Linked DNA regions of Homo sapiens. The protein of the gene in region 2 interacts with the protein of the main gene of each other region in a pairwise test. Each region holds a gene or a part of one and is shown on either strand. Other genes may lie near its edges. The genes, in order: ELF5 and NRIP2.

Region 1 (4,421 bases), on a different chromosome or scaffold from region 2:
GGACATACTTTTCATTTTGTGAGGGACTAGCTGGCTCATCATGGAAGGAGCCCTGGGCCTGGAGTTATGATTCTGCCTCTTGCCCCTCTCCAAATCTCAGTTCTTCAACTACTAAACAAGAACACAGATAAAACAGCCCCCAAGGTCTGCCCTAACTCTGTGACTTTCTGCAGACACCCACCTGATTGAGCCAACACATCCAAACCTGGGCACTCACACACATATGCATACACATTGATTATATTTGCATTTTTTTGGTCAAGCAAGTCCACCAAATTGGAGGAAAATCCAACCACTACACACAGACTGAACTTTTAGTGCTGAAAAAGCTCCCTGATTTCCTCTTCTCCCTTTTCTCCTGTGCCCACTGCCTTCTACCCCAGTTGGAGGTAGATACCTCAGGACAACTGGATATTCTTTGCCCAGCCTAGCTGGGTACCTTAAACACTCTGGACCCTCACTCACTGCCCACCGATAGATCCGTGGAAGCTGGAATCAGTTTCCCCCAAATGTAGTCATCATTCTAGCTGCCTAGTAAGTAGGAAAAGCTCAAGAATGATTAACACAAGGTGGTGGAATCAGGTGGGCTCACTTCACACATGAGAAAGTTGGCTGCAGGTACCTGTGGGAGTGAGGCAGAGATGGCATGGAAGCTGAGGTCCCCAGATGCCTCCAGTGGCTTCTGAACCCTTCTCAGAGCTGGCTCACACACCAAATGCACACAGAGAGGGTCCACCGAGTTGGAGGGACAGGCCTGTGGGCTTCTCAGTGTCACACAAATCAGAGGCAGCAATAACAGGTGTGGCTCCCATGGCCTGAGCAACCCGGCACCCCTGCTCAGCCTCCCAGAGAGAGGGGAAGGAGCAAACCACTCAGCCTTGGCCAGTTTGCCAGAGGAGGAAAATTCCTTCCTGACTCTGGTGGTGATCATCAACTTCACTCTGGGCATGTGACCAAAAATTGGCCCAATTAAGCATCTACACATTGGCTGTTTACGGGCCAAATCATCACTGGGCAGAACTAGGCCATAGGGTGCAAAATATAGAAAAAAGTGGCCAAGATTGGGCTTCCTCAACCCCACCCTCTGAGTGGTATCATTGGGAAGAAAATCGGTTTTCCTTCCTTAAAGCCTCAGTGATACCCAAATGTCCACTCCGTCCCAAGACTTGTGAGCAAGGGAGGGTCAATTTCCCAGCCCTTGGACCTCCCTAAGAAGGGGCCCACTGAGGAGAACCCAGTGGAGTATTTCAACACTTACTGCTAAAGAAAGATTGAGGGTTGGGTGCTTGAGGGTTTGTTCTTCTGAGAGGAACCCTAGCAACTGTGAGAACCAATTTGCTGACCTCTTGTCAAGTGATTCCTCATTTTTCTTTAGCTCGCTTAGGGAGTTTGCGTGTTTGTTTGTTTGTAGCTGTTTTTCTGAAGGTGCAGCGAAGATCCAAAAAGGTATGCCATGTAGTTTGCTGTAGGCTTCGATGCAAAGCTTACCAGTTTTGGATTACATATATCAGGGGTTAAATCCTACCTCTGCTGCTGCGAACGTGGGGCACATTTCTTACTACCCAGACTGCTGAAATTCTTAAGCTTTTTTTCATATAGATGTGGTATATAAATATTCATGCCCCTCTTCGAACTACGGTTTCCTCATCTCTAAAATGGGGATTTTTTTTTTTTTAAATCATGCAATCCGATATATGCAAAGGACGGGGCATAATACATATATTCAATCCTGTTTTAGAGGGAAAAATCAGCCATCAACAATGTATCTAAAAATTTGCCACTCTGGTGACTTCTGAAAAAGGGAGATGACCAAACTGAAAACTCCGGCCCGAGAATACCTTAGATTATGAAAAACAGTATTGCAGAGAACACGAAGACAACAGAATCAAGCGTTCACTCGGATGGGCAAACCACCCCTTTCCCTGGGTCTCTGGACTAGACTGAACCACAGAGCTGCCTCCCTAAGTCATCTAGCCTTTCTGGCCTCAGTTTCCTCATCTGTAACATGAAGCGATTGCACCTAGTGATGTCTGACACACTTTCGGGCGTACAAAAGGCATCCACACGCAGGCCCGGCTTCAGCCTGAGGAGGGAGCTTGTGCTACCTGTCGCTGTCAGCAGGGGGCAACCCCACAGAAACCCCACACACTGCAGAGTCTGACAAGGCCTGAGAACACAGTGGAAAAACGCTAACCATTGCTTTTCTGGAAGCATTCTCTTCTGGGGAGATGTCAGAGGGCAAATGGGTTTCTTTTAAAACTGTTTTGTACAAATTCCTGAAAATGCCCCAAACTATAATAAGGGAGTTCTCTGTATCGAGGGGGTGGGGGACAGTGGGCAGGCCGGTGGGGAAAGGAATTCAGTCAGGGGAGAAGGGTAGGTGGGGGGCTTTCCTTGAAGCTGAATATTTTTCTGAGTAAAATCCAGCTTCCCTTCCTAAAGAAGCTTTAGGGAGGATAGAGAACTGAGCGCCTGGGCGCGTTCTCTTAATTCCCCTTGGTTCAGCTAAGGGATCCAGAGGGAGTGGTGGCTGTGAGGAGGGCTGGTGGCCACACGGCCTGCGGAGGCAAGCAGGTCTCTCTGAGGCAAGCCGTCACATCCGTGTCAAACAGCTCCCGGAGGCCCTGGGACTGCACCCAGCGCAGGTGCCGGCCCTGGAGCTGGAGATGGACGAGCAGACCCAGGCCCCAGGCCGAGCCTCTGAGCCCTGACACCCCTTACGATTCATCCAAAAAAGCAAAGAAAAGGCGCTTACGTGAGGGCAGCGGTGGCTAGGTCCAAAGAGGAGGCTTTCAAGGCAAGAGAAGGCAGGCGCTCCCAGCACCAGCGTGCAGTGGAAATAAAGACACCTGTAGCCTTGTGATATAAGTGACACCTACAGACAGGTCCGTTTGGTTTTTCAGGTTTACGCACAGCCCCTTTGATGACGGTGACATACAGTGTGACACGGCTCCTTGGAGGGGGGGAAATGGTTCTCATATGCAGAAAGTTTACCTTTATCCTGCTTTTGTGCGCAGCTCACCCCTGCCCTGCAACCCCCCACTCCCAGCCCAGGGGACTCAGTAAACAAGCAGAAAATTCTTGTCCCTGGGAGCTGTGCGGGGATCGTGCGTTTGGTGAGGAATTTTCCTCTGTGCAAGCTGGAGGGGAAACACAGAGATTCCACCCTGGTGCCGGTCTGCGCTGCCTCTCTCCCAGGCTGGCTGAGCCCAGTGCTTTTGTAAGATCATGTCTTTCTCCGTTTTTCCCATGTGGTGAGAAGGAAGAGCATTATAGGCCCAGTGTTAAGACCTCAGGTTTTGCAGCTAGTTGCCTTTAGATTCAAATTCAGTGTCCATCATTTCCTAGCTGTGCTACCTAGAAAAATGTAGCTAACATCTCTGGGCTTCATGAGTGTAATGTAAGTGATGGGGCCTCTCCTCATGTGGATGCCAGCTCTCAGGTGTCTCGCTGAGAACTGCCCGCTTTTTAGTACTTCTTCGTGACAACAGAAACTCTGCCTAATTTAGGCTGCAAAGCACAGTGTCCCAGGTCATCTATGAGACAGGTATTTATAACCCTGTGCCTTTTTGCATTCTGCTTCTAGCCATCTTGGGCAGCCGAGATGTTGTATTCAAATGGCAGACTCCAAGCTTTAAAGCGAAAGCAAGGACTGGTTTGTTATGTTTTCTTGGGATCACCGGGCATGGTTACAAACACACAAATACAAATACGCATATAGTCTGCAGAAACAAAAGGCAGTTCGTGAGAGGATTCGGGGTGTCATCATGGAAAAATTGTTGAAGGAAGATAGGTGACTGCCTAGACCCCTATCTTGGCTGGGTAACCTGGACTTCTCTGGGCTTCATTTTTCCCCAGTGGCAAAAGGAGGAAGTGGGATTGAAATAGTGATTTTTTTCAAACTGTGACTTGAGGAACCCCAGGGGCTCCCTGGAGCCCTTACAAGGACTTTTGCGGGTGAGAGGATGGGAGTGGAGTAGAGTGGGTTAGGCTCTAGACCACCCCGTTCCTTCCTGACTCAATAAGAGCATCTCAGCTTTTATATAAATCTTCCGGGTAAGATTTCATTTGAACAAAAGAATCTGCCCTTAGAAAGGGTTTGCAAGTAACTGGATTACATGGTCTTTGGGCCTCTTTCAAGCTTTAAAATTCTGTACTTCTCTTCCTCTTTGGTTTCTAGGGGACTGTGCACTGTGATAGTCCCACACACTGTGTTTTCCATTGTTGGGCACTGGCCTATCTTGTCATTGATTTCTGAAATGTTACCAGTGTTTCTTTCTGAACATATACATTCTTCTCAGTGGAGAGGTTTTTAGGGAAAACATGTTATTCTGATACTGTTTTTAGAAAGAGTCTTTTGGGCTGGGCGCAGTGGCTCATGCCTGTAATCCCAGCACTTTGGGAGGCCGAGGCAAGCAGAT
Region 2 (4,561 bases):
TCAAAGAGGCTTGGTTCCTAGAAGCTCAGCAGACATCTGGTTTGTCTGAAAGTACATGTGCCTTGGAGCTGTCTGAGTCAGACTGCACCCTTAGGGAGCAGGGCTCAGGTGGGGTAATCACCCTGTGAGCATCCAACACAGGTAAACAGGTGCTTGGCCAATGCGTTTCCCTGATGGTGAAGAGGAAAGGCTGGAGAGAAAAATCTGCTGATAAGCCAGGGCTAGAAAAAGTCTGATACCAAGTCCTGGAGAGGATGTGGAACCTCAGGAGCCCCTGTGTGCAGCTGTCTCAGTGTGCACTGGTAAAAACACTCTGGCAATATGCCAAAAAGGCAAAGCTGTATATGGGATGCCCCAGCAATTCCACTCCTAGGTGTAGGTGTATACTCTAGAGAAATGCCTACATAGGTGCCCCAGGAGATGTGTGCAAAAATATTCATAGCAGCATTGTTTGTTAGACCTAAAAATGAAAAATAACCTACATTTCCTCAATGTCATGCATGCATCTAATGGAATACTATGTTACACAGCAGGTGAAGTCAATTAACTAGAGCTGGGCATACCGTATGGATGAATCTCACTAACAAAAACTATTCAGCAAAAAAGAGCAGATTGCAGAAGAATAAATACAGTGAGTAGGACAAAACCAACGACATATTGCTTAGAATGCATATGTAAGTATTTGCATAAAGAATATAAAGAAGTCTGGGCCTGATAAACACCAATTTCAGCAGGCGGAAGTGGAAGTGCACAGGGAGCTTCAACAGCTTATTTTTTAAACTGGTGATGAGTGAAGAGTACTGGTTATCTTATTCTTTATAACTTCTGTATATTTGAAATGCAACATTTTTTAAAGAGCCAGGACTTGAGGAGAGTCATATAAAGGAGACTGAGATGCCAGGGACAATTTCTACTCGTGGGAAGATTCAGAGTTGTTCCTGTCATTCCCTGGAACCCAGAATCCAGAGTCAATTAGTTAAAGACTCTGACATCTGCTAGGCGGGAGGCAAGAGACCTAACAAGGTAAGGCTAGGGGGATGAGAGGAGGGAAGGACGCTCTCATGCTGCCCCTCTTTGATCTGAACCCAGTTACTGGCCTGCGCGCCAGCCCTGGGCTGCAGATAATGCCAGGAGAAAACAGCTGGGCAGTCCTGGGAAGCCTGGGAGGGATGCAGAGGAGGGCGGGGGCCACACACGCTGGGAGGTGCACTAAGGCTGCTGCCCCCACACAGTGACAAGCGCTTCCTCGCAAACCACCTGGCACGGGCACCCTGACAGTTTACAGCACTGTCTCTCACTCTCCTTCTCTCTCTCTCTCTCACACACACACACACACACACACACACACACATACGCCCCATCCACCGCCCGCTCTGACCAGGACCCCAGCGTTGGGGATGCGGCCAAGTCAGCCAGCTGTGGGCCCTGCCAACCCTCCCTCTCTTCTAGGACTGGGTTTTTCCAGCCGGAGTCTCACTCCCTCTACAGCAATCTCGGGAAATTGGAGACTGACGCGGCTGCTCCTGCATGTTATTTATTTTTCCTCTTTCCCTCCCGTGGAGACCCTCCTGTTGGAAAGAGAGCTGCAGCACGGGACAGAGACAGGCAGGAAGAAGCAGAGAGGACTCGGTGACGCCCCCACCGAGCAGCCCCTGGCCCACTCCTCCAGCAGGGGCCATGAGCACCAAGCAGGAGGCCAGGAGAGATGAGGGAGAAGCCAGGACGAGGGGGCAGGAGGCACAGCTTCGAGACCGAGCCCACCTGAGCCAGCAGCGCCGGCTCAAACAGGCCACCCAGTTCCTGCACAAGGACTCGGCCGACCTGCTCCCGCTGGACAGCCTCAAGAGGCTCGGCACCTCCAAGGACTTGGTGAGGCATCACCCCTCCCCTGCCAGCGTCCCCTGGCCTTTTCCTTCCACTTCCCAGATCCTGAGCAGGAGGCAGGACCAGAAAGTGCAGACCCTCAGCTTTCAGGTCCCGCTCCCTTGCTGAGATGGGGAGAGGTCATCCTGCCAACTCAAGGCTCTTCACCGGGGATGTTCCCATGGTTTGGTGGCTCTGAGGGTTCCTATTCTCTCATTGCTTGGCTTCCCTTTTTCCTCTAATGGCCCCAAACTTGAGGGTGGTGAGGAGCTAGGCTGTTTAGAAGTGGGGGCTTACAGGAACACAGGAACCCTCTAGAGTGGTCACTTACAACCAGGAGGGCCTGGAGGACTGGCCAGTTTAGGGTTGTGACTTCCTGCTTCCCCCGAACCACAGGTTCCCCAGACCAGGTCTGTCTATCCACTTGTCCTTTCTCCTCAGAATCAAAACATCGGGGGTCTCCATCCTTCCCAGGGCATCAGGGTTTTGTGTGGCTCTTGCCGGGGGCCCCTGGCCGCCTTGAGTGCTGCTCCCCCAACTCCTGAGTGGAATGGACCTTCCAGGCTCCTCTCCTCCCATCCCATGTCTGCAGCAGCTTTGGCCTCAGAGGAATGGGGCAGGGGAGTAACAGTGAGGATGTGAGTGGGCGGCGGAAAACTGCAGATTCAGGCATTCCCCTCTGAGAGGCAATGCTGACAAGCGGGGCTGCGCAGCCACTTCGCTTGGGATCAGATCCTGGCTCTGCCATTTACTAACTTGTGCAATTGACTTTACGTCTCTGTGCCTCAGTTTCTTCATCTGTTAAATGAGAATCAAATCAATCATAGGATTGTTGGGAGAGTTGTTAGAGCTAATATATTTAAAGCACTTAGAACAGTGCCTAATAGCAGGCACTATCTAAATGCTATTATTATTATTCCCCCAGCTATTACTCCATTTAGTCTGAGAAATATTCCTGGCCTCTGACCCGTGGAAGAGAGGAAATCCTTTGTAGAAAGGCTTGGGAGCACTCGGTTCCCTGTCCCCTCTCCTAGTCTGAGAAGAGGTACTCAACCAGGCCTGTACTGACAGGTTGGAAGCATGTCTGCAGGCCTGTGCTCCACCAACTGCTTCTCCCCGGGAACCTGAAGGCCAGTGCAGCACCTCGCCTTTCCCTACTTAGCTCCACCTTTCCAGACTCCTCTCAGCCTGGGTTGCCCCCACCAGGACCACAGCCCAGAGGTCTGGCAATTCCCTAGCTCCCAACGAGAAAAGGGATTGCACTGAGACTTAATTCAGGGAACTGCCAGGGGCTTATTCCTACTTGCAGTGGCAGCAAGCATAGCTGAAAAACAGGGATGGAGCAGGGAAGCGGGTTCTTCGGCTCTCAATGGCTGGAACCTACTGGGGACCATCCTACATGTGTTTGGCCCCAGGAGAAGGTGCTCTACTGACATTGCCATCCCGGAGTGGCAGGTCCCGCCTTCTAATGAGAAAGTCCCGGGCTTTTCACCTCTCCCCTCTGCCTAGGATATCCCCAATTGATCCCTAGCAGTTACCTCCTATGGCTCTGGGAGCAAAGGCACAACAGGCAGGGAAGACCCCATCGTCTCCCTCCCTGGGATGGCTGAGGAGCAAACTGCACAACAGCGGGAGGGGCCTGAAGCCTGTGTTCATCGTGGGAAGGTGGAAGATGGGAAGTGCAGAGCCAGTCTCTCCAGCCAATCCCAGAGCTCGCTGAACTTTTCCCAGCACTGGGTCTACTGCTGGCAGCCTTGCTGCCAGGAGCAACCCCAAGGGCCTCATTAATCTAAGGGTAGAAAAACAATCCCAGGATCCCAAGGAGAGAGGGCAGGTGGAGAGGTGCATAGAGCCTGGGGGAAGAGTCAGTCTGCAGCAAGCATTTATTGAGTGCCTACTAGATGCTGAGCCATGCCCTGGGATATAAAAATGAGTGAGGTAGACTCAAGCGCTCTCCAGGCTAATGGGGGAGTAAAATCCATACATAACATTTGTGAGAAGCATGGAAAAGGGAGCTAAGACAAGGGACCCCAGCTTGGCGTGTATGGAGAGAGGAGCATGAAGAACTCAGAGAGGGTATCCTGGAGAGGGTACATCCTGCATTATAGGATGTACACAGAATCTCAAACTTAAGATACAACCTCTCTCTCAAATAAAGTGTGTTAAGCCAGTCATCCAGTCTAGCCTCGAGAAGAGTGAGGAAGAGGAGTTTCAGGAAGAGAGGAGAGAGGAGAGAGGAGTGAAGACATGGAGGCAAAAAGCGGCCTGGTATGAGCGGTGCTTCTGGGGCCCATAAACAGAGTGGCAGGGAAGGAGGCACGGCCCGGTCATGTGGACTGTGGATCACCTTCAAAAGCTTGAGCTCTATCATGAAAGCAATGCGGGGTAGGGTGGGGGGTCTTTGATGCATTTTAAATAAGAGAAGACATGGTTAGTTTCATGTTTTACTTTGGTGCTTCTCAAACTTTAACCTGCACATGAATCACCTGGGGATCTTGTCACAATGAAACATCTGATTCGGTAGGTATGAGAGTGCATTTTTAAGAGGCTTCGAAATGATGTTAAAGTTGCTGATCTGAGGACCACATTTTGGAGTAGCAAGGTTTTTAGCTTCCAGGCTGAAGCTCCAAGCAGATGTATTTGAAAGGTAACAGGTCTGGAGACAGGTTATGAACTTAAGAAGGTGTTCCAAGGATCC

What was found.
Region 1: the proteins of NRIP2 (region 2) and ELF5 interact in a two-hybrid assay, tested with the Homo sapiens proteins (one large-scale study listed by BioGRID and IntAct).

Annotation. Positions count from the first base shown.
Region 1 is NC_000011.10:34,510,922-34,515,342, forward strand, and holds the start of ELF5 (ETS-related transcription factor Elf-5), read right to left. Parts: upstream 2,874-4,421; 5' UTR 2,756-2,873; intron 804-2,755; exon of another isoform or gene 649-803; coding exon of another isoform or gene 623-648; intron 1-622. UniProt on the Homo sapiens protein: Transcriptionally activator that may play a role in regulating the later stages of keratinocytes terminal differentiation. Isoform 2 binds to DNA sequences containing the consensus nucleotide core sequence GGA[AT].
Region 2 is NC_000012.12:2,831,950-2,836,510, reverse strand, and holds the start of NRIP2 (nuclear receptor-interacting protein 2), read left to right. Parts: upstream 1-1,475; 5' UTR 1,476-1,527; coding exon 1,528-1,869; intron 1,870-4,294; exon of another isoform or gene 4,295-4,561. UniProt on the Homo sapiens protein: Down-regulates transcriptional activation by nuclear receptors such as NR1F2.